Linked DNA regions of Homo sapiens: all the other regions are reported to be linked to region 7. Evidence: microRNA targets listed by miRTarBase, many of them from high-throughput screens and not tested one by one. Region 7 holds a microRNA gene; each other region holds the end of a gene's coding sequence.

The links. The annotated mature microRNA hsa-miR-4722-3p reads ACCUGCCAGCACCUCCCUGCAG and lies in region 7 at 1,919-1,940, opposite strand. An mRNA with a match to its seed (bases 2 to 7 or 8) in the 3' UTR can be bound and repressed. Matches are read on the target gene's strand: a 7mer-m8 pairs with bases 2 to 8, a 7mer-A1 pairs with bases 2 to 7 and ends in A, and an 8mer does both.
Region 1: miRTarBase lists ZNF860 as a target of hsa-miR-4722-3p. The part of its 3' UTR that is shown has no 7-base or 8-base seed match.
Region 2: miRTarBase lists RAB21 as a target of hsa-miR-4722-3p. Seed matches in the 3' UTR shown: 7mer-A1 at 2,967-2,973.
Region 3: miRTarBase lists PGBD4 as a target of hsa-miR-4722-3p. Seed matches in the 3' UTR shown: 7mer-A1 at 785-791 and 7mer-m8 at 1,790-1,796.
Region 4: miRTarBase lists SCN2B as a target of hsa-miR-4722-3p. Seed matches in the 3' UTR shown: 7mer-A1 at 850-856 and 7mer-A1 at 1,879-1,885.
Region 5: miRTarBase lists ARFGEF3 as a target of hsa-miR-4722-3p. The part of its 3' UTR that is shown has no 7-base or 8-base seed match.
Region 6: miRTarBase lists CEACAM19 as a target of hsa-miR-4722-3p. Seed matches in the 3' UTR shown: 7mer-m8 at 3,428-3,434 and 7mer-m8 at 2,756-2,762.

Annotation. Positions count from the first base shown.
Region 1 is chr3:31,990,674-31,994,734 of GRCh38, forward strand. It overlaps ZNF860 (zinc finger protein 860), which reads left to right. Exons shown (of 2, transcript NM_001137674.3): 2 at 1-1,050. The coding sequence ends at 305. It also overlaps a transcript of OSBPL10 not described here. Among named protein-coding and RNA genes, the nearest start is that of ZNF860, 11 kb to the left of the region's middle.
Region 2 is chr12:71,785,087-71,789,152 of GRCh38, forward strand. It overlaps RAB21 (RAB21, member RAS oncogene family), which reads left to right. Exons shown (of 7, transcript NM_014999.4): 7 at 445-4,066. The coding sequence ends at 587. Among named protein-coding and RNA genes, the nearest start is that of RAB21, 32 kb to the left of the region's middle.
Region 3 is chr15:34,103,722-34,107,782 of GRCh38, forward strand. It overlaps PGBD4 (piggyBac transposable element derived 4), which reads left to right. Exons shown (of 1, transcript NM_152595.5): 1 at 1-4,061. The coding sequence ends at 568. Among named protein-coding and RNA genes, the nearest start is that of PGBD4, 3.7 kb to the left of the region's middle.
Region 4 is chr11:118,163,404-118,167,469 of GRCh38, reverse strand. SCN2B (sodium voltage-gated channel beta subunit 2) reads left to right here. Exons shown (of 4, transcript NM_004588.5): 4 at 384-4,066. The coding sequence ends at 583. Among named protein-coding and RNA genes, the nearest start is that of SCN2B, 11 kb to the left of the region's middle.
Region 5 is chr6:138,335,939-138,340,004 of GRCh38, forward strand. ARFGEF3 (ARFGEF family member 3) reads left to right here. Exons shown (of 34, transcript NM_020340.5): 34 at 357-4,066. The coding sequence ends at 548. Among named protein-coding and RNA genes, the nearest start is that of SMIM28, 40 kb to the right of the region's middle.
Region 6 is chr19:44,683,013-44,687,078 of GRCh38, reverse strand. CEACAM19 (CEA cell adhesion molecule 19) reads right to left here. Exons shown (of 8, transcript NM_001127893.3): 8 at 2,724-3,642. The coding sequence ends at 3,589. LOC107985306 (a long non-coding RNA gene) reads right to left here and starts at 2,041. Exons shown (of 3, transcript XR_007067268.1): 1 at 849-2,041; 2 at 1-236. RefSeq lists an enhancer at 1,688-1,982.
Region 7 is chr16:88,714,360-88,718,425 of GRCh38, forward strand. MIR4722 (microRNA 4722) reads right to left here and starts at 1,978; the gene lies at 1,919-1,978. It overlaps CTU2 (cytosolic thiouridylase subunit 2), which reads left to right. Exons shown (of 15, transcript NM_001012759.3): 11 at 24-127; 12 at 228-378; 13 at 501-567; 14 at 689-747; 15 at 823-1,037. The coding sequence ends at 892. It overlaps PIEZO1 (piezo type mechanosensitive ion channel component 1 (Er blood group)), which reads right to left. Exons shown (of 51, transcript NM_001142864.4): 45 at 2,664-2,852; 46 at 2,447-2,539; 47 at 2,200-2,372; 48 at 2,002-2,124; 49 at 1,839-1,918; 50 at 1,574-1,760; 51 at 979-1,495. The coding sequence ends at 1,246.

The DNA of each region.
Region 1 (4,061 bases), not on the chromosome of region 7:
ATACTGGAGAGAAACCTTACAAATGTGAAGAATGTGACACAGTTTTCAGTCGCAAATCACACCATGAAACACATAAGAGAATTCATACTGGAGAGAAACCTTACAAATGTGATGATTTTGACGAGGCCTTCAGTCAAGCTTCATCTTATGCAAAACAAAGGAGAATTCATATGGGAGAGAAACATCACAAGTGTGATGATTGTGGCAAAGCCTTTACTTCACATTCACATCGCATTAGACATCAGAGAATCCATACCGGACAGAAATCTTACAAATGTCATAAGCGTGGCAAGGTCTTCAGTTAGAGGTCACTCCTTGCAAAACATCAGAAAATTCATTCCTGAGATAATTGTTCCAAATGCAATGAGTATAGCAAACCATCAAGCATTAATTGACATTAGAGTCAATTCAGCATTGACTTGAGTTTCAGTTGACTTGACATTGAGTTCAAGCATTAATTGACATTAAAGTGTTTACGTTAAGAGGATTGGGCTGGGCAGGGTGGCTTATACCTGTAATCCCAGCACTGTGGGAGGTCAAGACGGATAGATCACTTGAGGTCAGGAGTTTGAGACCATCCTGGCCAAAAGACGTGAGCCACTTTTCCTAGCCTGTTTTTTGTTTCTGATAGGGATTTTTATGGGTATTGTGTTGAATCTAAATCACATTGGGTTATATAATCATTTAACAATATTAATCTTTCCAATCCATCAATATGGGTCATATCTCTATTTATATAAGTTTTTAATCATTTTGATCAATGTTTGTAGATTTCAAGGTACAAACTTCTCACCTTTTTACGTTTATTCCTAAATATTTCTTACTGTAAGTTCTCTAGCAAATGGAAGTGTTTTCTTAATTTTCTTTTAACATTGTTTATTGTTAATGTATGGAAATTTAACTAATTTTTGGTACTGATATTGTATTCTGCAAATACACTGTGTTTATTAGCTTCAGTAGTATTTTAGTTGACTCTGTGATTTTCTACACAGCAGATCATGTCATCTACAAACAAATACAATTTTACTTCTTTCTTTCTGAAAAAAAAAATGGATAACTAATACAGATGCCTACCCTGAAACATGCCATTTTTTGATCCTTATGTTTTGGGATCTTTCTCACTACCACTGACCAACTTTTCATATCCTGAAGATATGAAGCAGTGAAAATAAGAGAATTCAAGACAGGCTAAAAAAAAAAAAATGCCAGGTGCAGTGGCTCATGCCTGTAATCCCAGCACTTTGGGTGGATCACTTGAGGTTAGGAGTTTGAGACCAGCCTGGTCAACATGGCAAAACCCCACCTCTACAAAAAATACAAAAATTAGCCAGGCGTAGTGGCACGCACCAGTAGTCCCAGCTACTGGGGAGGCTGAGGCAGGAGAATCACTTGAACCTGGGAGGCAGAGGTCGCAGTGAGCCAGGATCGCCCCACTGCACTCCAACCTAGGCAACAGAGCGAGACTCCATCTCAAAAAAAAAAAAAAAAAGATATGTCAGTGTGGTGTAGGCAAAAAGTATGGACACATAGAAATATGGAACAGAATAAATAATCTAGAAATAGTTTCATATGAATATAGTCACTTGATTTTGACAGAAATGCAAAGGCAATTCAATGCAGCTTTTTGTATTGGTTTCCTATTGCTACTATAAAATATTACCATAAACATAGTGGTTATTATAAAACAATACAACTTGATTATTTTACCGTTCTGGCAGTCAGAAGCCCAAAAATGGGTCTTACATGGTAAAATCAAGGTATCAGTAGAGCCATGTTGATTCTGGAGGCTCTAGGGGAGAATCTATTACTTGCCTTTTCCAGCATCTAGAGGCTGCCCACATTCCTTGGTTCCTGGTTTTTGGCCCCTTTCAGCAAGGACATCACTCCAATCTCTGGTTCTGTCATTGCATCTCCTTCTCTGACTCTGACCCTCCTGCATTTTTCATAAGGACCCTTGTGATTACATTGAGCACACCTGGATGATCTTTTCAACAAGTGATGGAACTAGACATCTATATGCAAAAAACAAACAAACCTTGGCCAGGCATGGTGACTCATGCCTGTAATCCCAGCACTTTGGGAGGCCAAGGCAGGAACATCACTTGAGGCTGGGATTTCAAGACCAGCTTGGGCTACATAGCAAGGTAACATCTGTCCAGAAAGTTTTTTAAATAAAATATTAGCTGGGTGTGGATGGCACATGCCTGTAGTCCTAGTTACTCAAGAGGCTGAGGCAGGAGTATCACTTGAACACAGAAGTTCAAAGCTGCAGTGAGCTGTGATCATGCCACTGCACTCCAGCCCAGGCAATAGAGCAAGACCCTGTCTCTAAAAAATAAACAAATACTGAAAATATTTACTCTACAAAAGATATGGGTAAGGAAATGAAAGGTGAGCCAAAGACGGGAAAATATTTGCAAATCATGTGTTTGACCAAGGACTTGTTTCCCGCATATTCAAAGAACCCTCAAAATGCAGAAGTAAGAAAACCTTATTTTATTTTATTTTATTTTATTTTATTTTATTTTATTTTATTTTATTTTATTTTATTTTTGAGACAGAGTTCACTCTTGTTGACCAGGCTGGAGTGCAATGGCACGATCTCAGCTCACCACAACTTCCACCTCCCAGGTTCAAGCACTTCTCCTGCCTCAGCCTCCCGGTAGCTGGGATTACAGGCATGCGCCACCATGCCCGGCTAATTTTGTATTTTTAGTAGAGACAGGGTTTCTCCATGTTGGTCAGGCTGGTTTCAAACTCCTGACCTCAGGTGATCCACCCGCCTCGGCCTCCCAAAGTGCTGGGATTACAGGCATGAGCCACCGCGCCCAGACAAGAAAACCCTTTTTTAATCACAAAAAATGTGAGCATTCACTTCACCAAATAAGATATACAGATGTCCGAAAAAGCACATCAAGAGATGTTCAACATTACTAGTCATTAGGGAAATACAAGTAAAACTACAATGAGATACTACTACATACCTATTAACATGACTACACACACATACACACACACACACACACACACACAAAACTGAGGATACCAAGTGCTGGTGAGGATGTGGAGTAATTGGAACTCTTACACATTGCTGGTGAGAGTGCAAAATAATACAGTCACTTTGGAAAACAGTTTGACAGTGTCTTTTAAAGTTAAACATACAATATGATCTAGTTATTCCACTTCTAGATATTTATACAAATATAATGAAAACCTATGTTTGTACAAAAAAAAACTTGTTTGTGAATGTTTATTGATGCCTTATTCATAATCATCAAAACCCGGAAACAACCCAAAGATCCCTCAACTGGGGAATGAATTAAAAATGTAAACCAACTATGGTACATGTATACAATAAATGAGTACTCAGCAATAAATGAGAGTAAACTATTGTTACATGCAATATTGCAAGTGAATCTCATATGCATTATGTTCAGTGAAAGAAGCCAGACTCAACCACACACTATATGATTTTCTTGATAATGACATTCTGGAAAAGGCAAAACTATAGGAACAGAGTTGAGAGTAGTGATTGCCAAGAGTTAAGAGTGGAGCAAGTGTTTGACTAGAAAGAGGTAGCTAGACAGAAATGTATTTGAACGTGGGTGGAGTGATGGAACTGTCCTATAACTTACTTGTGGCAGTGGTTACAAGAGCTCCAGGCCTCATAGAAACTCATAGACTGTCCACCAAAAATAGTGAAATTTATTAAATGTGAACTTCTCAAACAAATTTTTAAAAAAGAAAAAGGTATATGAGGTCAAATGTCCTGTATGCCTTCATGTTAGAGGATGAGTTCCCTATGTCAGGGAAAAAAAGGATGGATGGATGGATGGATGGATGGATGGATGGATGGATGGATGGTCTGCCAGCCTAACTGCATGCCTGCTGAAAATTTTCAGTGATATTTCTAAGATCTTTTGGGTAGGTGTGCAGATGTCTTTTCTATACACCTTCTTCAAGTGACAGTAATGTGAGCATTTGATTAAATGAGACACCAAATCAGAAAATTCTTTATAAATTGAAAGTGTACTGCAAACACCAGATATGTTACTGCCAAA
Region 2 (4,066 bases), not on the chromosome of region 7:
ACCCTGTCTCTCAAAACTAAAATAAAAAGAATCATTTACTTAAAAGTATTACATTTCTAGTTGAAGAATAAATCCTGCCCCCTAAATATTACTTGGAATAATTTGAACTTCTTTGACATATTTCTAAGTGTGTTTGGAAAATCTTAAGGATTATACTTGTACGCAGGCAATTGTTCAGAGCAAAAAAATTTTTTTCTTTATTGATATCACTGTGGCCATTATACCACTGGATAAATAAGCTTACTACTTGATACTAGTTTTTGACACTAGTTTTTTAAAACATGCAGGTGAAGCTGTTTTAGTGAGCTGACCCAATGTTCATTATATTTAGTTTCTTTGTTGGTCGAAAGTCAGAAATAGCTATCATAGTGTTATACTGAAATTTTAGAAAGAGAAAACACAAATATTGTGGTCCTAATAATGTTTGCTTTCTCTCTGTCTTAGGGATGATAGAAACAGCACAAGTGGATGAGAGAGCAAAAGGCAATGGCTCTAGTCAGCCGGGAACTGCAAGGCGAGGTGTACAGATTATTGATGATGAACCTCAAGCCCAGACCAGTGGTGGAGGGTGCTGTTCTTCTGGATAACTGTTCACGCCTAAGAAATTAAAAGACAGAACAAAACTGTGGATCATTGCCCTCAACATGAAGACTGCCATATTCCAAGTCACATTATTTTACCAATGGAATTATAGAATTAACAGTATTTTAAATTACGTTTATAACACTGCAGAGACCTTAAGTGCTAAACTTAGTGGAGTTTGTGACCAGAGAATTGGCATTTTCTACAAATGTTTTTTTTTGTTTTTTTTTTGTTTTTTTTTGTTTTTTTTTGAGACGGAGTCTCGCTCTGTCACCCAGGCTGGAGTGCACTGGCTTGATCTCGGCTCACTGCAAGCTCCACCTCCCAGGTTCACGCCATTCTCCTGCCTCAGCCTCCCGAGTAGCTGGGACTATAGGCGCCCACCACGACGCCCGGCTAATTTTTTGTATTTTTAGTAGAGACGGGGTTTCACCAGGTTAGCCAGGATGGTCTCGATCTCCTGACCTTGTGATCCGCCCGCCTCGGCCTCCCAAAGTGCTGGGATTACAGGCGTGAGCCACCGTGCCCGGCCTACAAATGTTAACAAAGCAATTACCAATGGCCTTTTTACATATTTTTTCTTTAATGAGGAATAATATGCATGTAGAAAAGACCTACTTAAAGTCTTCATTTATATTCTTTCAAATCAAATCTTTATTTAATAACTTATATATGTTGTTGGAATGGTTACATTTTTGCAGCCCTTTGTATTTTGTGGTAGTTGAAATTGTATCACTTCTAAACAGCAAACTGTTTTTGTTTTTAATTAGCAGATATCTGAAGTACTATTTTTGCAGGGTTTGCACAGGCCCGTAACTGTCTACTACTTTGATATAATCTGTATACATCCTGTATGCTGAGCTGGTAAAATACATTGTAAATTACATATTAAATATTTTATCTGCTTTTACAAGCGCAAGGTGCAAAAATATATACAATAGTCTCATTGATGACTGTAAAGTGAATTAACATTTGGTGATTATGCCTAGCTTTTTTGACTAATATAAAGATCATAGCTCCCCTTCACTTCTGTCTTAACTTGAACATGGCGTGTTTAAATTTTCATACATACTTTACTTGAATTATTGCTGTTGTCACATATTTTTGCCTCTGTGAGTTCATCTGATGATTGAGCAGTAGCATTTGCCTTTTGGGTTTTTTGTTTGTTATTATAGAAGAGATGACTTCTGCTGATTTTGCTTTAGAATGGTTACCTTAGAAGAATTTGGGTGGCTCATGTTGAATTTCACTTCTGCAATAGCTTTCATTTTCTCATAGGCTTTATAAGAGATGGGTTCAGTGGTATGAGCAGAGGAAGAGATCCCAGATAGTAGCCAGTTAACCAAGACTCATTCATATAGCACGTAGTTTATGTTCCTGAGGCAGCACTTTTAGATCCTTTGTGAGCAAGTTCTATTTGTTCATTGCTTGCCAGAGATGAACACAGAATGTTCTGTTTCATTTTACAAGAACTATCCTGAGTTTCTGTGGATGGAAACATTACATGTAATGCAGATATAGTGAACACTGGAAAGATTTATTAAAGAATTATATTTGTGTATACTTTATAAATTAGTCCCTCATTAGATTTTTTTTTCTTAAGCATAAGACTGAACTTAAATGTGTTAATTTTAGTAGAATCAGGCACTGCTCGCAGAAGGAACACAGATTGTAGAGATTAACATAAATTGTTCTTGTTCTAATATATATATTTTTTCATTTCTGTCGTGCTTGGAAAACTAGTAAATATTATGTCTAAGATAAAATGGAATGGCCCCTGGATTTACTTCTTATAAGAAGCAGTAGTATGTAATAAAGCTATTAGCATGAGCAATTAAGAGGCTATAAAGAGATTATAGTTACAAAAGAAATACTGCCATATTTTTAAGTTAATAACTTAAACCTTCTCAAATGGGTTAAAAGTTGAATGAATTGACACCCTGATGTTATGATGTTGGAATTTTAACTTAAACTGGGAGGCATTCTGTGAGCCTTCACTTTACCTTCTTTAATTATTGTCCTTGCTAAACTCAACACAGACTTTTCTGTTATGTGTTTTTGAGGAAGTTGGGGTGGGAAGAGTCAGGGAGATAAGCTAAAATTGTCTTCTTTTATGGGGTAATTGTACTCTGTAGTCTCTTGGTTTCCTGTGAAGTTAGTATTTATGTGGGGGTGGGGGAAGGTAGCAAGAATCATGGGTATCACGGTACTTTGTTTTTGACCTCCTGGCTCTTTCAGACAGAGTGAAGAAAGCTTTTCCATTCTTACTGTTGTAGAAGTAGATAGGAAATAAGCTTTTCTCATTACAGTGAAATATGTTTTAAAAACTAGAGTAGCTGGGCACAGAGGCATGCATTTGTAGGGCCAGCTACTTGGGAGAGTGAGGCAGGAGGATCACTTGAGGCCAGGATTTCAAATCCAGCCTAGGTAACACTGAGACCTCCATCTCGTAAAAGGCACAAAAACTAGTTAGAGATGAAATTGAGCTTTATTTTAAAAAAACGTTCTAAAGCCTGATAATTGGAGAGCTATACTTCAGCTTTTCATCCTACTTTAATGAAACAGCTAGATAGGAACCTCTGCTCCAGAATTGCCAGATAATTATTGGTGGGTCATAACTATTCTTCATATTTTTTTTTTCTTTTTTCTCCTTTGGTTTCTGTGTTATCTTTCTTAACCTCACGTATTTCTTTATCCTTTTTAGTGGGGGCCTGTAATTGAGGCTAATTCAATAGCAACAATAGACAACATGATATGGCTGCTGTCACTTTGAAACCCAAAAGGTCTTTGGGTAGGAATAGAGTAATGAAAGAGGACCAGTCAACTTCAGTATATATACAAAGGAAAGACAAAGAGATGATAAACCAAGGCTGAGGAAATTTTTCTGATGCTTTCTTCATTTCTCTAATATACCTTTTGCATTCTTTTTCTGATAATTGTGCTATTAGGCAGAAGACACAAGTTACCACGTTGTGTATTAAAAGCAGTAGGTAGGTTGTGCCAGTATTTTTTCAGCCAGTAAGCATATACAGTTAACTTATATAATTAAAAATTGGTTTAAGATAGTGATTAAAAATACCTGAATATTATGTTAAAAGTATACAATCATTGTTTCTGTAATGATGATGGGTATTCTGCTTCTTGTTTTTCATTGTAATTACAGGGGAAGATTGTTTTTGAAAATGTATATTGCCATGCTTTTGGGGTAAGCAGTAATGTGAAAAGAAAAAAGCATTATGTTATTGTATGAAATATAAGTGTTCAGATTTGTTTTGTCTGGGGTGTTGCCTAAGAATACCCTAAAGCTATGGCTGTTACTGCATTGAAATCTTTTTTTTTTTTAATAGTAGCCATATGTTATTAGTGGAGTACTTTATATTTGACATTAAAGTGAAGAAGAAGAGTAGTACTTCACTTTTAGGTTTTTAGTAGTGAAAGATAAAATTGGAAAAATAGGGAAAGAGCATAGGGAGGAATAGAATGG
Region 3 (4,061 bases), not on the chromosome of region 7:
AACATTCCACAATGATACTGTGATTGAAGTAAACAATAGAAATGGAAAGAAAACTAAAAGGCCACGTGTCATTGTGGATTATAACGAGAATATGGGAGCAGTGGACTCGGCTGATCAAATGCTTACTTCTTATCCATCTGAGCGCAAAAGACACAAGGTTTGGTATAAGAAATTCTTTCACCATCTTCTACACATTACAGTGCTGAACTCCTACATCCTGTTCAAGAAGGATAATCCTGAGCACACGATGAGCCATATAAACTTCAGACTGGCATTGATTGAAAGAATGCTGGAAAAGCATCACAAGCCAGGGCAGCAACATCTTCGAGGTCGTCCTTGCTCCGATGATGTCACACCTCTTCGTCTGTCTGGAAGACATTTCCCCAAGAGCATACCAGCAACGTCCGGGAAACAGAATCCAACTGGTCGCTGCAAAATTTGCTGCTCCCAATACGACAAGGATGGCAAGAAGATCCGGAAAGAAACGCGCTATTTTTGTGCCGAATGTGATGTTCCGCTTTGTGTTGTTCCGTGCTTTGAAATTTACCACACGAAAAAAAATTATTAAATACCGATCATCATACACATCTGTTCCATTAGGATTAGAGACAAGTTCTGTTTAGAAATAACTCCAAGATTGGGAGGCCGACCTGGGTGGATCACCTGAGATCAGGAATTCAAGACCAGCCTGGCCAACATGGTGAAACCCTGTCTCTACTAAAAATACAACAATTAGCTGGATGTGGTGGCACATGCCTGTAATCCAAGCTACTTGGGAGGCTGAGGCAGGAGAATTGCTTGAACCCATGAGGCGGAGGTTGCAGTGAGCTGAGATCACACCACTGCACTCCAGCCTGGGTGACATAGCGAGACTCCATCTCAAAAAAAAGAAATAACTCCAAGAACAGTTTTGTTGTTTTTGTTTTGTTTTGTTTTGTTTTGAGACGGAGTTTCACTCTTGTTGCCCAGGCTGGAGTGCAATGGCATGATATTGGCTCACTGTAACCTCCACCTCCCAGGTTCAAGCGATTCTCGTGCCTCAGCCTCCCTAGTAGCTGGGATTACAGGCATGTGCCACCACACCCACCTAATTTTGCATTTTTAGTAGAGACTGGGTTTATCCATGTTGGTCAGGCTAGTCTTGACCTCCCGACCTCAGGTGATCCGCCTATCTGGGCCTCACAAAGTCCTGGGATTATAGGCATGAGCCACTGCGCCTAGCACCAAGAACAGTTTTTATATTTTATTTTCACATTGAAAATCAGTCAGATTTGCTTCAGCCTCAAAGAGGGTGTTTATGTAAAACTAAATGAGTGCAGGCAGCGAGCTACACTTTTTTTTTTCCTAAATGGAAAATGGGAAGGAGATACTGTCTCTGAACAAAAATAGCTGGAAAAACACATAACTGTTAACTAAGGGTTGCCTCTAGTGAAAAGGATTGGAAGACAATTTATCTGATGCTACACTATTCTTCCTGTTGTGATTGTTTTACTGTGAACATAACAAGGTTGTATTGGGGAGGAGGGCAGGGGTTGATTGCTGCCAATGTTGATTGCTGAGGCCTTAGCCAAGATTTCAGGCATCATTTGCTCCAGTCCTTTCATTTTCTTTATGGTGGAAAGTGAAGTGACTTGCCCAAGATCTTTGTTGGCCCTAAACATCGCTGTCTCTGCTACAGATTCCTATTGAGAGCAATGCATGTTTTAGCCTTGTGCACTCTTAGAGTCAGCATCATGGGAAAGAGTAACAGCAATTGAAAAAAGAGATTCAAGAGCCAAGTACTCAGCCCTGGCAGGGGATGGGGACATGATGCCCAGAGCCACCCCTATACTCCAGTCTCCCTGGCATCAGCTACTGCAGTACTGGGGTACTTGCCTTCATCTTTTTTCTGAAGATAGTTACTTCTTCATATTTGATCATCGGAAGGAGCAGCATTGCTCAGAAACACACACACACACACACACACTTGACTTTCTTGTCTGCCAAATAAATTTCTTATTTGCTAGGGAACTGGTAATCTAGGCTCAAGAAGTGTGTGGAGAAGGTTTATTTTCATTCTTTTTACTTTAAAATATGCCTTAGTTTTTGAATAGATAAGACATTCAAGTGTCAGAAAGTAAAAGTCAGTTCAGGACTGAGAAAGGAAAGATCAGTGCTGATTTTAATCAGACTGTAATGTACCAACTAGATACAGACAGGGCCAGTGGCAAGGCCATCAGAAAACTTCTTCCCAAGGCCACACCACACCTGCAAAATGCCTAACAACCTTCTTCTTTTCAGTGATTACCACTTTCTTACCAATGACTTCGCTTTGTTCCTCGTGCCTCTGAACAGACTGCTGAGATACCCAATCAAGAGCCAATCCTTGCTTCCCTAGACTCTCCTCAATCATTCAACAGAAGCCCAAATCTTGTAAAAGTTCCTTTCTGGGCCGGGCACAGTGGCTCACGCCTGTAATCCCAGCACTTTGGAAGGCCGAGATGGGCGAATCACAAGGTCAGGAGTTTGAGACTAGCCTGGCCAACATGGTGAAACCCTGTCTCTACTAAAAATACAAAAAAAAATTAGCTGGGCATAGTGGTGGGTGCCTGTAATCCCAGCTACTTGGGAGGCTGAGACAGGAGAATCACTTGAACCCGGGAGGCAGAGGTTGCAGTGAGCCAAGATCGCACCACTGCACTCCAGCCCTGGCGACAGAGTGAGACTCCATCTCAAAAAATAAAAAAGTTTCCTTCTGTTCCCTCTTACTGTTATATCCTTGGTTTCTCTGGTGTGGGGTCTTCCTTACAGCAGCAAGCTCATAAACTTAACTTGACCGCAGGTGTGTTCCTTGGTGGTCTTTATCTGATAGACTTTGTCACATGGTACAATATTCAAAAGGCACATGGTACAATATTCAAAAGGCACATGGTACAATATTCAAAAGGTATGAGTATACAAAAAAAATCTCCCACCTACTTCTCTCCCTAGTCACCCAATTCTCAAGAGGCAATCACTGTTGCCATTTTCCTGAGTATTCTTCCACAGATAGTCAACTATCTACAGAAAAATATATACATTAAAAATAAGGCCAGGCACAGTGGCATGCCTGTAGTCCCAGCTACTCAGAAGGTTGAAGCAGGAGGATCACTTGAGGCCAGGAGGGCCAGGAATTTGAAGCTGTAGTGTGCTATGATAGCAGGCCTGTGAATAGCCATTGCACTCCATCCTGGGCAACATAGCCAGACCCTGTCTCTAAAAAAAAAAAAAAAAAAAAAAAAGACAAAAAAACAAATCCATATATACATATATATGTATATATATAGTATGCTACCAGTTGTGTGAAAAAAGGGGCAAAATATATATTTATTTAACTTATATACAAATAACATTCTAGAAATAAATTGTTTAATATAAAATACACTAATATATAATAATGTATTACCTAACATATGATTATATATAACTATAATGTGTACTGTTTTACATACATATTTCCAAAGTATACTATAAATGCACTTCCGCACTTTGCTCTTTTTACTAAATATATCTTGGAAATCATCCTTTATTCGTACATAAAAAGCTTCATAGTTCCTTTTTATGGCTGCAAAATGTTCCAGCTTATGGATGGACTGATTCTCTATCGAGCAACATTAAGATTGTGTCCTATTTTACTATTCCTAATTTTGCTGAAGTGAATTTCTTTTGCCATGTGATTTCCACAGGTGTATATATGTAGCGTAATTAGTACTAGTAGAAAGTAGAATTGCTAGATCAAAGAGTATGTGCCTTTGTAATTTTGATGATATTGTGAAATCTTCTTCCACAGAAGTTGTTGCAACTTTCACTCTCACCAGCAATGTGTAAGATAACTTGCTTCTTCATACCCTCACCAACAATGAGCTATCAAATGTTATTTTTGCCAAGCAAATAAATTAAAAGTGATATCTCAGTTTTTGTTTGTTTGTTTGTTTTTTGAGACAGAGTTTCACTCTTTGTTGCCCAGGCTGGAGTGCAGTGGCGTGATCTCGGCTCACTGTAACCTCCGCCTCCCAGGTTCAAACGATTCTCCTGTCTCACCC
Region 4 (4,066 bases), not on the chromosome of region 7:
CATCCTCATGAAAACCTTTGAGGGAGGTACTATTATTAAGCCCATTTTACATGTTAGAAAACTGAGGTTAGAGAGGATAAGTTACTTAAGGTCACGCAATTCGTAAGTTGTACAATTAGGACTCAAATTTGGGTCTGTTTGATCTTAAAGTTCATGCTCTTAAATACTTCATCACACTAGCTCCTCTGGGGGCTTTGGGTGTCCTGGGATTTGGAGGTGGCGGCGCTTCAGGGTCAGTCACTGGATTGCTTTTCGGCTTTGCTAAAGTCCTGTCTGTGGAGGAGAGTAAAGTCAGGATGGTTCCACGCATGCCACGGGTAGTGGGGTGATGGGGGAGGCCCCTTTCCCAGCCCTGGTGCTCAGTGGCTCTGCTTCCTTTCCAGAGCCCCCTGAGCGGGACTCCACGGTGGCCGTGATTGTGGGTGCCTCCGTCGGGGGCTTCCTGGCTGTGGTCATCTTGGTGCTGATGGTGGTCAAGTGTGTGAGGAGAAAAAAAGAGCAGAAGCTGAGCACAGATGACCTGAAGACCGAGGAGGAGGGCAAGACGGACGGTGAAGGCAACCCGGATGATGGCGCCAAGTAGTGGGTGGCCGGCCCTGCAGCCTCCCGTGTCCCGTCTCCTCCCCTCTCCGCCCTGTACAGTGACCCTGCCTGCTCGCTCTTGGTGTGCTTCCCGTGACCTAGGACCCCAGGGCCCACCTGGGGCCTCCTGAACCCCCGACTTCGTATCTCCCACCCTGCACCAAGAGTGACCCACTCTCTTCCATCCGAGAAACCTGCCATGCTCTGGGACGTGTGGGCCCTGGGGAGAGGAGAGAAAGGGCTCCCACCTGCCAGTCCCTGGGGGGAGGCAGGAGGCACATGTGAGGGTCCCCAGAGAGAAGGGAGTGGGTGGGCAGGGGTAGAGGAGGGGGCCGCTGTCCACCTGCCCAGTGCTTGGCCTGGCAGTGGCTTCAGAGAGGACCTGGTGGGGAGGGAGGGCTTTCCTGTGCTGACAGCGCTCCCTCAGGAGGGCCTTGGCCTGGCACGGCTGTGCTCCTCCCCTGCTCCCAGCCCAGAGCAGCCATCAGGCTGGAGGTGACGATGAGTTCCTGAAACTTGGAGGGGCATGTTAAAGGGATGACTGTGCATTCCAGGGCACTGACGGAAAGCCAGGGCTGCAGGCAAAGCTGGACATGTGCCCTGGCCCAGGAGGCCATGTTGGGCCCTCGTTTCCATTGCTAGTGGCCTCCTTGGGGCTCCCGTTGGCTCCTAATCCCTTAGGACTGTGGATGAGGCCAGACTGGAAGAGCAGCTCCAGGTAGGGGGCCATGTTTCCCAGCGGGGACCCACCAACAGAGGCCAGTTTCAAAGTCAGCTGAGGGGCTGAGGGGTGGGGCTCCATGGTGAATGCAGGTTGCTGCAGGCTCTGCCTTCTCCATGGGGTAACCACCCTCGCCTGGGCAGGGGCAGCCAAGGCTGGGAAATGAGGAGGCCATGCACAGGGTGGGGCAGCTTTCTTTGGGGCTTCAGTGAGAACTCTCCCAGTTGCCCTTGGTGGGGTTTCCACCTGGCTTTTGGCTACAGAGAGGGAAGGGAAAGCCTGAGGCCGGCATAAGGGGAGGCCTTGGAACCTGAGCTGCCAATGCCAGCCCTGTCCCATCTGCAGCCACACTACTCGCTCCTCTCCCAACAACTCCCTTCGTGGGGACAAAAGTGACAATTGTAGGCCAGGCACAGTGGCTCACGCCTGTAATCCCAGCACTTTGGGAGGCCAAGGCGGGTGGATTACCTCCATCTGTTTAGTAGAAATGGGCAAAACCCCATCTCTACTAAAAATACAAGAATTAGCTGGGCGTGGTGGCGTGTGCCTGTAATCCCAGCTATTTGGGAGGCTGAGGCAGGAGAATCGCTTGAGCCCGGGAAGCAGAGGTTGCAGTGAACTGAGATAGTGATAGTGCCACTGCAATTCAGCCTGGGTGACATAGAGAGACTCCATCTCAAAAAAAAAAAAAAAAAAAAAAAAAGGCAATTGTGCGGAGCCAACCATCACTGCCATTACACTCACATTCAATGGAAATTGATTAGGCCTGAGAGAAGGAGCAAGAGGCAGAAACACTGACTCTGAGACCATGACCTTGGAAGATCCTCAGAGATCAACTAGCCAAGTCACTCACTTAAAATGGGGAAACTGAGGTTCCAACTGACAGAAACTGAGGGTCCTGCCCTCTTCTCTGGCTCCTCAGTCTCCAGTTTGAAGCAACAGAGCCATCATTTTCCCAGTGGGAGGGGCCTCTGTGTCCTGGTCTATGATGGGGCGAGTTGGAGGGGTGGGCTTCTCTAGCCCTGCCCCCTCCCAGGAGCCCAGCCCCTCTGGCCAGGACTGAGGAGGAGTGGAGGGAAGCAGGGAGGGAGGGAGCAAGTGTGAAGGGCACAGCTGCTGGCAAATGCCCCATTCCCTGCCCCAGCACTTCCCAGCCTTTCCAGGAGCTCTGCCCCACCCCTACTCAAGGAGTCAGGTGCCCAGGGTAGGGAATAAGTCTAGGAAAGGGGGTGGAGACAGGACCGTGACAGTCTCAGGGACCAATCCCTGCCTCTGCCCATCAGATTGCCAATTTGGGGAGACAGCAATATCATCTGGGAGATTCAGCTTAATTTGCTTCAATTCAGCAACCATTTATTGAGCATCTATTATGTGCCAGGCACTGTGCCGGGCACTGGGGATATACACAAAGCCATAAGCACTGGGGACTGCCAGGTTGGCACTGTAGGGACCAAGATTAACTTTTTGGTGCATCTAATTCCACCTCTGCAAGACACTGCTTCCAAGGCTACAGTTGGGGAAGATGAAGAGATTCTAGAATCTGTGCCCTGGGAAGGGAGAAACAGCAGGGAAGAGGGGCAATACAACAGGGTCAAGGGTGCAGAGGCCAGGCAGAGTGGGTGCAGAGTGGGGGATGGGCAACCAGCCTGGTAACACCTGGGTGAGGTGAGCGAGTCAAGCCCATCTGGAAATGCTAAACTCATCAGCTCAGTACCTAACTGCCAATCAACACACTGCCAATGCGGGTGGGCTAAGCCGCCAGGATGCCTGCAGCAGATGGACGCTGCCCATCCTTGAGCCAGCCAGCTGGGGGCAGAGAGGTGGGTGGCGGGCACCTCATGCCAGCTGAGACCAAGAGTGGTTGTATACATTTCTGCAGCTTGCAGATTTCATTTTTTTGGTCACCCTTTAAGTGTCCTTCTCTCCCAGGATGAGTGAGGAGCTGTGCTGATGTTGGGAACTTATCTTTTTCCAGGATCCATAACATTTAGGGGAATTATTTGCGGGCTTTCCTAGTGTATTCTAAGAAGTTCTAACTCTCCATCAAGAAGCCCAAGATTCCTGGAGTCTTTTTTTCCTCTGCCCTGATCAACTGGGGCCCAGGAAAAGCAATGTCTCTTCACGGGCCTCAGGGCCCCAGCAGATGGGGCTGGGTCAGGAACCATCTCTGTCCCAGGTGCTCAGCCCTCATATGCATTTTCTTCTGGAGCCTCTTAGAATCTCCTCCAGAGGACTCATAGAGCTGCCTCCCCCAGGATGGTGAAGTTGGGAGCAAAATGGGGCTTCTGTAAGTAGAGGTGGAAAACCAGAGAGATGTTTCCACAGCAGCCATTTCCCTACCCTGTTTCCTAACTTATGCTGACAAGTTCTTCCTCTTCCTACCGTGGGGTTCGAGCCCCACTTCTGGTTGCATGTTCCCACCACCACGCTCTGCTGGTTTTAGTCGGCTGACTTTCTCAACTGCCCCAGCCTCTCCTGCTCTCTCAGAACCTCCCTCTGCCCCCACCCCCCATCTGTCTCTTCCTCCTAATTAAGGGCCACTGCAAAGAGAGACGGGCTGGCTAACCCATGGGATTTAGCTTATAAGAACAAAGCACAATTATTCAGGACTGAACTGCTTTGAGGTGCCTTGGAACTGGCTTTGGAAATAGCTATCTGCCCCCTAGCTATGGACTCTTCACAGTTATTTCCAGTTTATAAAAAGGAAAAGCTGATCGGATCCATGTTTCTCTCTGCGAGTCTCCTTGGGGAGGTTGGGCTGGT
Region 5 (4,066 bases), not on the chromosome of region 7:
GGTGCATCAAAAAATGAGTTTGAGATTAACGGCCTGTGGAGATCTCACTGTGAGAAGGCAAGGGAGGTTTGTTGTTGTTGTTGTTTTTAAATCTAAGGAATAAGTAAGAGTTTAGTAGTTTGTGAAAGCTGAAAATAAGGCGAGTCTCTGCCCATCTTTATGTATGTGAAGTTATGATGTAGGCATAATAAATTAATACGCCTACAATTTATTATAGGCATATTAAATGAGTGAAAACTAATTTATTGCAACTAAAGCCTGGAAAAAAACCATTTCCACATTGGCAGGGCCACTCTCAAGTGTTCAAATAAAACCAGGGGGGAAAGCCACTGATTTTCTTAAATCTTTTCTCTTAGGCATGGACCAACATGGTGCTAACAGTTCTCAATCAGATTCAGATTCTCCCAGACCAGACCTTCACGGCCCTCCAGCCCGCAGTGTTCCCGTGCATCAGTCAGCTGACCTGTCACGTGACCGACATCAGAGTTCGCCAGGCTGTGAGGGAGTGGCTGGGCAGGGTGGGCCGTGTCTATGACATCATTGTGTAGCCGACTCCTGTTCTACTCTCCCACCAAATAACAGTAGTGAGGGTTAGAGTCCTGCCAATACAGCTGTTGCATTTTCCCCACCACTAGCCCCACTTAAACTACTACTACTGTCTCAGAGAACAGTGTTTCCTAATGTAAAAAGCCTTTCCAACCACTGATCAGCATTGGGGCCATACTAAGGTTTGTATCTAGATGACACAAACGATATTCTGATTTTGCACATTATTATAGAAGAATCTATAATCCTTGATATGTTTCTAACTCTTGAAGTATATTTCCCAGTGCTTTTGCTTACAGTGTTGTCCCCAAATGGGTCATTTTCAAGGATTACTCATTTGAAAACACTATATTGATCCATTTGATCCATCATTTAAAAAATAAATACAATTCCTAAGGCAATATCTGCTGGTAAGTCAAGCTGATAAACACTCAGACATCTAGTACCAGGGATTATTAATTGGAGGAAGATTTATGGTTATGGGTCTGGCTGGGAAGAAGACAACTATAAATACATATTCTTGGGTGTCATAATCAAGAAAGAGGTGACTTCTGTTGTAAAATAATCCAGAACACTTCAAAATTATTCCTAAATCATTAAGATTTTCAGGTATTCACCAATTTCCCCATGTAAGGTACTGTGTTGTACCTTTATTTCTGTATTTCTAAAAGAAGAAAGTTCTTTCCTAGCAGGGTTTGAAGTCTGTGGCTTATCAGCCTGTGACACAGAGTACCCAGTGAAAGTGGCTGGTACGTAGATTGTCAAGAGACATAAGACCGACCAGCCACCCTGGCTGTTCTTGTGGTGTTTGTTTCCATCCCCAAGGCAAACAAGGAAAGGAAAGGAAAGAAGAAAAGGTGCCTTAGTCCTTTGTTGCACTTCCATTTCCATGCCCCACAATTGTCTGAACATAAGGTATAGCATTTGGTTTTTAAGAAAACAAAACATTAAGACGCAACTCATTTTATATCAACACGCTTGGAGGAAAGGGACTCAGGGAAGGGAGCAGGGAGTGTGGGGTGGGGATGGATTATGATGAAATCATTTTCAATCTTAAAATATAATACAACAATCTTGCAAAATTATGGTGTCAGTTACACAAGCTCTAGTCTCAAAATGAAAGTAATGGAGAAAGACACTGAAATTTAGAAAATTTTGTCGATTTAAAATATTTCTCCTATCTACCAAGTAAAGTTACCCTATGTTTGATGTCTTTGCATTCAGACCAATATTTCAGGTGGATATTTCTAAGTATTACTAGAAAATACGTTTGAAAGCTTTATCTTATTATTTACAGTATTTTTATATTTCTTACATTATCCTAATGATTGAAAACTCCTCAATCAAGCTTACTTACACACATTCTACAGAGTTATTTAAGGCATACATTATAATCTCCCAGCCCCATTCATAATGAATAAGTCACCCTTTAAATATAAGACACAAATTCTACAGTATTGAAATAAGGATTTAAAGGGGTATTTGTAAACTTTGCCCTCCTTGAGAAATATGGAACTACCTTAGAGGTTAAGAGGAAGGCAGTGTTCTGACTTCTTTAGGTGATCTGAAAAAAACACCCTTATCATCCAGTGTACCATCTAGAGATCACCACAGAATCCATTTTTTTCCCAGTTCCACAAAACACTCTGTTTGCCTTCAGTTTTTACTCACTAGACAATAATTCAAGTTTAGAAACAGGTAATCAGCTATTTGATCTTAAAAGGCAATGAATTGTTGGGATATCAGTGAACTATGTTGTATACTTTTGAATTTTTACATTTTATAAATGGAATTGAAAGTTGGATAACTGCTTTTTTTAAATTTTCCAACAGAAGTAACACCACAGTTGCTTTGTTTCTTTTTATAGCTTACCTGAGGTTCAGTTCTTCTTTGTGAACCTGTGAGTACTCCACAGTTTACTGGGGGAAAAGGCTTCAGTAAAGCAGAGGCTAGAATTACAGTATTTATACATAGCAACTTTTCATAAAGTAGAAAAATTCAAAGGAAGCTGTCTCAATTTGAGAATACCAGCTGGGCACGGTGGCTCACGCCTGTAATCCCAGCACTTACTTTGGGAGGCCAAGGTGGGCAGATAACCTGCGGTCAGGAGTTTGAGACCAGGCTGGACAACATGGTGAAACCTCGTCTCTACTAAAAATACAAAAATTAGCCAGGTGTGGTAGGATGCACCTGTAATCCCAGCTACTTAGGAGGCCGAGACAGGAGAATCGCTCGAACCCAGGAGGCGGACGTTGCAGTGAGCCAAGATTGCACCATTGCACTCCAGACTGGGTGACAAGAGTGAAACTCCATCTAAAAAAAAAAAAAAAAAAAAGTGAATACTGTATCCCAAAGTATGTTAGTTGTTTGTTTGGAAATCAGCATTCTCCCCGATGCTCTATTATGGGATCCAAAATTCTTGAACATAAGTTTACCCTGTACTGTGTCCAAACACTGTTCTAGTTCTAGCCTGATTATGGGTCCCAAGAATAAAAGGATGAGTAGGTGTACAGAGCTCTTGACCTACAATTTTTTAAGAGTGTTTTGGTACCTTCCCATTGTCTTCTCTATAACTCAGTCCTAACATACTCTGCACTCGAGTTACCAGCCATCCACACTGACATCAGATTTCAACCAGAACCATCACTGAGTGACAGCAGTACTTCTCAGAGGTATTTGCAGCTTGATGCAAAGTAGTCTCTAATGAGTAGGCATTCAGGTGGTTCTTCCCAGCAGGTGGAGAAGAAAGGGAGGAGATGAAGAACACTGAGAGGGGAGTGGCACCTTCCCAGGCTGCCCAGCTCAGTCTCTTGCCCTGTTCCTGTGACTCAGCTGCCCACTCCCCCAACTTTGTTTCCCTCCCTCCCAGTCTCTGAAAGTGTCAGGTGTTTCTCTCCTCACAGTCTCTTTTGCAGCAACAGTAAGACAAAATTCAAGGCAGCCTTTTAAAGTTACGAACAGTTATTAGCATGTATTTACAGACCTAAGCAGAATGAGAGTTTATACATTGTTTTTAGTTGCCTGTATTTATAGCCAAAAGTATATTACCTTAAAGTTGAGATCTTTCTCTTCTTTTCCTAAATTTTGGTAAAGTGTGCTTCATGAAACAAACATCTGGAAAACTCCAAGTATAAGAGACCCTGGACTGATGATGGCCCAGCCAAGTATATGGAGGGACAGAGTTCTCTCTGTCATTAATGAGGACATCGGTTTTCACAATTGAACCTCATGCACTGTCCACAGCATCTCACCTAGCTCCTGTATCTCCTGATCTGCTTTTAAAAATAGTTAGTTAGGCTGCCTTTTTACACCACCTTCTCTCTCTCCCCTTGTGGTAATTTTCCAGCCTTCCCCATAGATATAAAACTAGAACACCTTTATGATTTGGGGTCTATGTAATGACTGACCGATAAGAACCCAGGCAGATGCTAACATACTTAACAGCTCGCATTAAAATACTTTAAATCAGGCGTGATGGCTCATTCCTGTAATCTCAAGCACTTTGGGAGGCTAAGGTGGG
Region 6 (4,066 bases), not on the chromosome of region 7:
TAGCACCTGCTCCATTCCTTCACAGCATCGTCATCCCTGACATTATGTTCCATGTGCTTTGTTTTTCTGTGGCCTGTCTCCCACTAGAAGGTCAGCTCTCCAAAAGCAGCCATCACTGTCTCATTCATGGCTGTCTCCCCAGAACCTAGAATAGGGCTGTCCACAACAGATGCTCAATAAATCTTCATTGAATTGATGAACAAACCAATTATTGGCACACTCTTCTCTCCAATCCCCTGTATCCAAACCAGAAACAAATTCTGTCAATGTTTTGTTCTAGAGTGTTGCTCTGTTGCCCAGGCTGGAGTGCAGTGGCATGACCTCGGCTGAATGCAACCTCTGCCTCCCGGATTCAAGCGATTCTCCTGTCTCAACCTACCACCACTCCCGGCTAATTTTTGTATTTTTAGTAGAGACTGTATTTCAGCATGTTGGCCAGGCTGGCCTTGAACTCCTACCTCAAGTAATCCGTCTGCCTTGGTCTCCCAAAGTTCTGGGATTATAGGCGTCTGCCACCATGGATTTCAGTCCTCCTGTCTGCAGAGCCAGGAGTTTGAGACCAGCCTGGCCAGCATGGTGAAACTTGTCTCTACTGAAAATACAAAAAAAAAAAAAAAAGTAGCCGGGTGAGGTGGTGTGCACCTGTAGTTCAGCTACTTGGTAGGCTGAGGCAGGAGAATTGCTTGAGCCTGGGAGGCGTAGGTTGTAGTGAGCTGAGATCGCACCACTGCACTCCAGCCTCGGCGACAGAGCAAGACTCAAAAAAGAAAAGTCTCAAAAAAGAAAAAAAAAAAAAGAGAGAGAAAAGATGGAATCCCCTCACACTCCTAGCCCTGAGCCCTGGCTACCTGGCTGGCTTGGTTGACCCTCTTAGCAAGGCGGTCAAAGGCCCAGGCATTTGGTGTCTGGAGCGGTCTGAGGATGGAGAAGTCTCCCAGAGAGTATTTGCATACTGAGTCAGCATGAGACGCAACTTCTCCTTCTGTGATTTCTTCCTCATCCTCTAGATTAGTTTCCCATTTCCTGTAAAAAATTGCCACAAATTTAGTGGCTTAAAACAACACAAGTTTGTTATCTTATAGTTCTGGAGGTCAAGAATCCAAAATGGGTCTCACTGCACTAAAGCCAAGGTTTCAGCGGGACTGTGTTGCTTTCTGGAGGTTGTAGGAAGAAAATCCATTTTCTTGCCTTTCCTCAATTCTGATTTTTTTTTTTTTTTTAAGACAGAGTCTCGCTCTGTCACCCAGGCTGGAGTGCAATGGTGCAACCTTGGCTCACTGCAACCTCCGCCTCCTGGGTTCAAGCGATTCTCCTGCCTCTGCCTCTCCAGTAGCTGGCATTACAGGCACCCGCCACCACGCCTGGCTAATTTTTCTATGTTTGGTAGAGACGGGGTTTCCCCATCTTGGCCAGGCTGATTCTTGAACTCCTGACCTCAGGTGATCCCCCTGTCTCGGCCTCCCAAAGTGCTGGGATTCCAGGCATGAGCCACCACCCTCGGTTCTGTTTTTTTTTTTTTTTTTTTTTGTAGAGACGGGGTCTTGCTATGTTGCCCAGGCTGGTCTCCAACTCCTGGCCTCAAGCGATCCTCCCACCTTGGCCTCCCAAAGTGCTGGGACTGCAGGCGTGAGCCACTGAGCTTGGCCCTCCTCCAGCTTCTAGAAGTTTCTTGCATTCCTTAGCTCAAGGCCCCCTTCCGTCTTCAACACTCACGATGGCCCATGGACTCTCTCACACTCAATCATTCTGACTCTGAAGTGCTGCTTGACTTTCAGCTCCTTCTCCCGTCTTCAAAGGGCTTTGCTTCCTTTGTTGTCACAGCCCCTCTGACTCACGCTTCCTGTGTCCTTCTCGATTATAAGGATCTGTGTGATTACATAAAGAGCCTGCCAGGGCAATCCAGGATAATCTCCCCAAAGCACGATCCTGAACTTAATCATGGCTGCATTCTTTTGTCATATAACGTAACATTCACAGGGGATTAGGATGTAGACGTCACTGGGGGGCCGTTATTCGCCTTTCACAGCACCCTGCCCCTCAAAGCCACAGTCTCGGCAGTGCCTTACCTGGCCCTGCGCCATGTGCCCCTCCGTCCATCTCCTGACGTCAACTTCCACCCACCTTTTCCTCCTTCCCCACCCTCTCCACCACACTGGCCTCCTTGCTGCTCCTTTTTTTTTTTTTTTTTTGAGGTGGAGTCTTGCTCTGTCACCCAGGCTGGAGTGCAGGGGCACGATCTTGGCCCACTGCAAACTCCGCCTCCCGGGTTCAAGTGATTTTCCTGCCTCAGCCTCCCCAGTTGCTGGGATTACAGGTGCCCACCACCATGCCCGGCTAATTTTTGTATTTTTAATAGAGAAGGGGTTTCACCATGTTGGCCAGGCTGGTCTTGAACCCCTGACCTCAAATGATCTGCTTGCCTTGGCTTCCCAAAGTGCTGGGATTATAGGTGTGAGCCACCATGCCCAGCCCCCTTGCTGCTCCTTGAATATGCCAGGCATGCTTCTGCCCCAGGGCCTTTGCACTGGCTATTCCCTCTGTCTGGAATGCTCTTCCTCCAGAGCCCCACATGGCTCCTTTCTTCCCCTCCTACAAGTCTTTGCTCATTTGTCACCTTCTCAGCGAGGACCTCTGTGCCCTAATTAAAAATCTCAGTCCCCCAATACTCTCGACCCCCCTCCATTTCCCCAATACACTTATCCCCATCTGACAGACAACGCATGTTCATTATTTATTTTATTTCCTGATTCTTTCCCCTGCCAAGTGACCCTCTGGGAAAGCGGGAGTTTTTGTTTTGCTTTCTACCAGGGCTGCAAGAGCCTAGAACTGGGTCTGGCATACAGCAAAGGCTCATTTATTGCTGAATGAATGCATAGTTTGGGGAAGGGGAGGACAAGCTGAGGCCACATTTGGGACGGGTGCTGGGGTGGGGTGGAGAAGGGAGCTGCTGCCCAGAGGGACTCAGTAAGATTCAGGGTGGGGGCCAAGACCAGCAGCTGGCAGCAGGTTCTGAGAGGGGCTGGGCCTGCCTGAACAGGGAAGGGGTCCAGCAGCCGTGGTCACCTTGCTGGGACTGGTGTGTGGGGCCACAGGCCTGTGAGGCTGGGCCTCTCTGCCACCTGAGGCCCGCATGGTGGGGTGTCTGCCTTGTCCTAAGGGGAGAAGACTCTGAGGGTCACTAGTGGAGTTGGGGTAGGGCATTGAGGACAGACAGTTGGGAGCCCAGCCAACTGCCTGGGAGGCAGGCCTGAGGCCACCATCTTGTCCCCAGATATCCAGATCTTGGGGGACTTTGGCATGGAAAGGGGCCAGAGCCTGCCTTTCACAGGCACATGGCCCAGGCCAGCTTGCTTGAAGGAACAGACCGAAGGCGGGCGTGCATTCACGGGCTGCACAAGGACCTGGGCCTGTTACAGTCTCCTGTCCCCCTGCCAGGACACCTGCCCCATGTGCTGCTGAGTCTTTGGCTGAGTCCACCTCATCGGCCCCACAGCCCCCAATGGCCTTGTCCTGCTGGTCTCAGGTGTGAGGCTCCCAGAGGAGGGCTGGGGCCTTGTCTTCTCCCTGGCTGGCCTGGCCCAGGACCCATCAGGAAGTTGGCACCAGCTGGCAGTAGGGGGCAGGGTCGGGGTTTAGCAGGTCCTGCTTGGGGGGAAGAGAGAACAGAATTATGACTGGGTGGAGGGGGAGAGTCTTGGGGAGACAGAGAGGGACAGAGGATGAGAGACAGCGTGAGATGGAGAGAAACCCGCAGAGAGAATGGAAGAGCAAGGTGGAAAGAGAGTGAGATGCAGAGACAAGAGGTCCTGGAAGAGCCAAGAAATGAGGTGGACACAGTGACAGAGACAAAGAGGCAGGAGAGACAGAGAATGGAGAGAGAGAGAGACAGAGATGCAGAGAAACGAAGACATGTAAAGAGATGCATCTTAGACAAGGCAGCATGAACAAACTGGAAACAGAAAGACAGATTAAAAAGGACACAGCAAGAGAAACTGAGAGAGAGAGAGAGAGAGAGAGAGAGAGTCCAAGAAAGGGGAAGACAGACATACAGACATATGTAGGCCAC
Region 7 (4,066 bases):
CTCCTCCCACAATCCGGCCACAGGACAAGTGAGAAGCTGGTGAAGGGCCCCCGGGATGGCCCTGCTGCTGGCGACTCCGGCCCCCGCTGCCTCCTCTGCATGTGTGCCCTGGACGTCGACGCCGCTGGTCTGTGTTTCATGCTCTTGGGGTGATGCGGGGAGGGAGCCAGGGAGTGGGTGTGGGGGCTCAGCAGCCCCAGGCTCCGTCACCCCCTCTCTGCTTGCAGACAGTGCCACGGCTTTTGGGGCTCAGACCTCCTCGCGTCTCTCCCAGATGCAGTCACCCATCCCCCTGACTGAGACCCGGACACCCCCGGGGCCCTGCTGTTCTCCAGGGGTGGGCTGGGCCCAGCGCTGTGGCCAGGGGGCCTGCAGGAGGTGAGTCCCTGTCCCTGCCACCCATGGCCAGCTGCATGGGGCGGGAGGGGGACCTGTCCTTACCCCACACTGCACGGCATTGAGGTGCCAAGGTGGGCACACAGCCAGCTCTGCTCCCGCAGGGAGGACCCCCAAGCCTGCATTGAGGAGCAGCTGTGCTACAGCTGCCGCGTGAACATGAAGGACTTGGTGAGTACGTGCCCACCTGTCCTGGGCCGGGCTTGGGGACGCGGGAAGGCCGTCACCTCGTGGGTGGCTTGAGGGGGTGCTGGCAGGTTTCTTGGCCCCTCGACACCGGCCTCTGTTGCAGCCCTCACTGGACCCCCTGCCGCCGTACATCCTGGCTGAGGCCCAGCTCCGCACACAGAGGTACTGGGGCCCACACTGCCGTGGCGCGTGGGTAAGGGGCCTCGGGGCTGGTGCCCACTGCAGCTTTCTCTCTAGGGCCTGGGGCTTGCAGGAGATCCGGGACTGTCTGATTGAGGACAGTGACGACGAGGCGGGCCAGAGCTGAGCGTGAGGACGTGCTTGCCGGGACAGCAGGCAGTGGCCACCTGGTACACCACACTGGAGCCGGAAGGCAAGGACGGGGGACTGGCCTCTGATTGTCCATTTGTATAAATAAAACATTTTTTAATTAAAAAAAAAACTCTACAGTACACGTGGGGGACGGCAGCGCCACGCAGGCCGTGGGGACGCAGTGTCCTTCTCTGACAGCAGCATCAGGGCTCAGGCAGGCCGGGAGGATGCATCACAGCTGGCGGCCTTGGACGGGGCAGTGGCTCCCCCGGCCTGAGGAGTGCCGCCCCTTGTGGCCACGCTGCCCAGCAGGCCGGCTCCTTCCCTCTCGGGCGCCAGCAGCAGCTCCTACTCCTTCTCACGAGTCCACTTGATCATGGTCTCCGGTGAGCGGTAGAGGAAGATGAGCTTGGCGTACAACTCCTCCTCCAGCTCCAGCTCCCGAGTCTCCCGCACCAGGAAGATGTCCTGGCAGAGCTTGAGGATGCGGTCCACGCACGGCAGCTCCTCGAACATAATGGAGTGCGAGATCTCGCTGAAGAATCCGCGCACGAACTTGCCGATGACCAGCACGATGGACACGTACAGCCCCATGATGCTGCGGGGGAAGCTGGTGAGTCCTGGGGCCGCCCGGAGCCCCCCGAGCTGCGGGGTGCCCCCCCAGCCACTCACTCACCCGTAGCCAGCCAGGAAGCCGAGGCTCGGTGGGCTGACCTTGTCACTGAAAATGACCATGGGCAGCAGGTTGCAGTCGGTCCGGCACTCCTGCAGCTCGATGACCCACCATTCGAGGAAGCCGGTGGCCCCCGCACCCTGCTCCCTCCGCAGCTGGATACGCACGCCGAGGTAGTCGGCCTCCTCATCTGGGATGGAGGGAGAAGATCGTTGAGGCCGCAGGTCACCCCTCTCTAGCCTCCCCCAACCCCCACGCCCATACTCACTGGGCTGCAGCTGCTTCACAGGGTTGGCTTCGGGCCCGTTGGGGGCACGGATGTACTTGGGGAAGAGATTAGGGATGACCCTGCAGGGAGGTGCTGGCAGGTCAGGCCTGGCCCAGCCAACCTGGCACAGCCCTCCTGCCCACCACCCGGGCCCTTCACTCACACAGACTGGTCCGAGGTGCCCTCGAGCAGGCTGGCCAGCTGCCGCCGTGCAGTGCTGTTGGGGGCCAGGGCCAGCATGTGCTTCTCGTTGGCATACTCCACAGTGCCTCCCTTCGCCAGGTCCCTGGGGGTGGGAACACAGCGTGACCCACTGTAGTGGGTCCACCCACCCAGGCACTGCCCCAAGTCCAGGACGAACCTCTGGAAGTTCCAGGTGAAGCGCAGGGTGATGTCGGCCGTGCCGTTGTAGAGCTCCCGCTTCATCTGGGCACGGCTGGGGGGACTGATGCGCCACAGCGCCCCGGAGCTGCCCTCAATCTGCGCCGTGACGATGTCCTCAGGGCTGTACTGGCTGATGAACTGCATGGCCAGCTGGGTACAAGTGACACCCTCAGTGACTGCAGCCGCCTCCCCACACCAGCTTTCACAGGGCAGAGGCCACTTACCGGCTGGGGGTCAAACTGCCGGGACAGCTCCTCATAGGCCTGGGCCGTGAAGGGGATGATGGACGGCTGCTGGGCGCTCATGGTGAACAGCGGCTGGGGCAGGCACGGGGACACGGGGCCACGAAGATGAGCGTGGAGGAGCGGCTGGGGGTGGTGCACCACCTTGGCCAGAACCCCCAGGGGATGGGAATGGACAGGCGGACCCACACATGCTCACCTCATAGCCGCCCAGCTTCAGGGTGACGGTGACATCGATGGGCTGGTTGACAACCCCAACCACGGAGCGCACCAGCGACATGAAGAGCAGTGGGAACCAGATGATGGCGATGAGGAAGAGGATGATGAGGCCACCCATGCCGTACTTGACGATCTTCTTCTTCTTCTGCCCTTTGGGCTGCGGGTATTTCTGGAGGGGAACGACACAGGTCATACGCTCAGCTCTGCCCTTCCTGCGGGTCACACAACCGCATTCTCCAGCTCACCCAGCAGCCCAGAAAAGCCCCAGCCTGACCTCAGTATGGCACAGCGGTAGTAATGGTGGGCAGACACAGGCCAGTGGAGTAGAACTAAGAGTCCAGTTGGAACCCTCATGTTCAGGGGTCGTTGATCTTAGACAAGGGAGCTGTGACCGTTCAGTGGGAACGGACAACCTTTTTCAACACGGTGCAGGCACCGCCCCAGGCAGGAGAATGAAACGCAACTCCTGCCTCATACCATGTGCCAAAATTTACCTCAAAGTGGATCAAAGAGCGAAACTTCAGAGCTAAAACTATAGAACTTTTAGAAGAAAACGGGCAAATCTTCATGAACCTGGATTTGGCGAAGGAAACAAAGTAAACCAGATATTACCAAAATAAATACTTTGTGCTTCCAAAGACACCAAGAAAATTTAAGAGACAGTCCATAGAATTGGAGAAATTTTCTGCAAATTTTAATTGATAAGGTTCTAGCAACCAGAGAATACAGAGAATTCTTCCAATTCAGTCATTTCTAGCCAATGTATCTGCAGAAAAACAGAAAAAACTCTAATAAAAAACAACCCAACTGCTGGGTGTGGCGGCTCACACTTGTCATCCCAGCACTTTGAGGTCAGGAGTTTGAGACGAACCTGGCCAAAAATACAAAAGACTAGCCAGGCCTGGTGGTGCACACCTGTAGTCCCAGCTACTCGGGAGGCTGAGGTGGGAGAATCGCTTGAACCTGGGAGGCAGAGGCTACAGTGAGTGAAGGTCATGCCACTGCACTTCAGCCTGAGATCCTATCTCAAAAGCCCAACTAAACTATGGAGAAAGGATTTGAATAGACATTTCCCCAGAGAAGATACACAAATGGCCAAGCACATGAAAAGACGCTCAGCGTCGGTCAACAGGGAACTGAGAAGAGCCCACAGCAAGCCACCCGTTCAGCAGCATGGCCAGAACAAAAAAGACATAGTAACAGGTTGTTGAGGATGTGGAGAAACCGCAACCTCGTGTTGGTGGTGGGAACCTTAGATGGTGGAGCTGCTATGGAAAACCAGCAGCTCCTCATGATGGAAACCACCACCAGCACTTCCGGCCCTGGCGTGCAGCCACAGGACCAGGGGCACGGGCACACAGACGTGTACACCGGCGTGCCTGG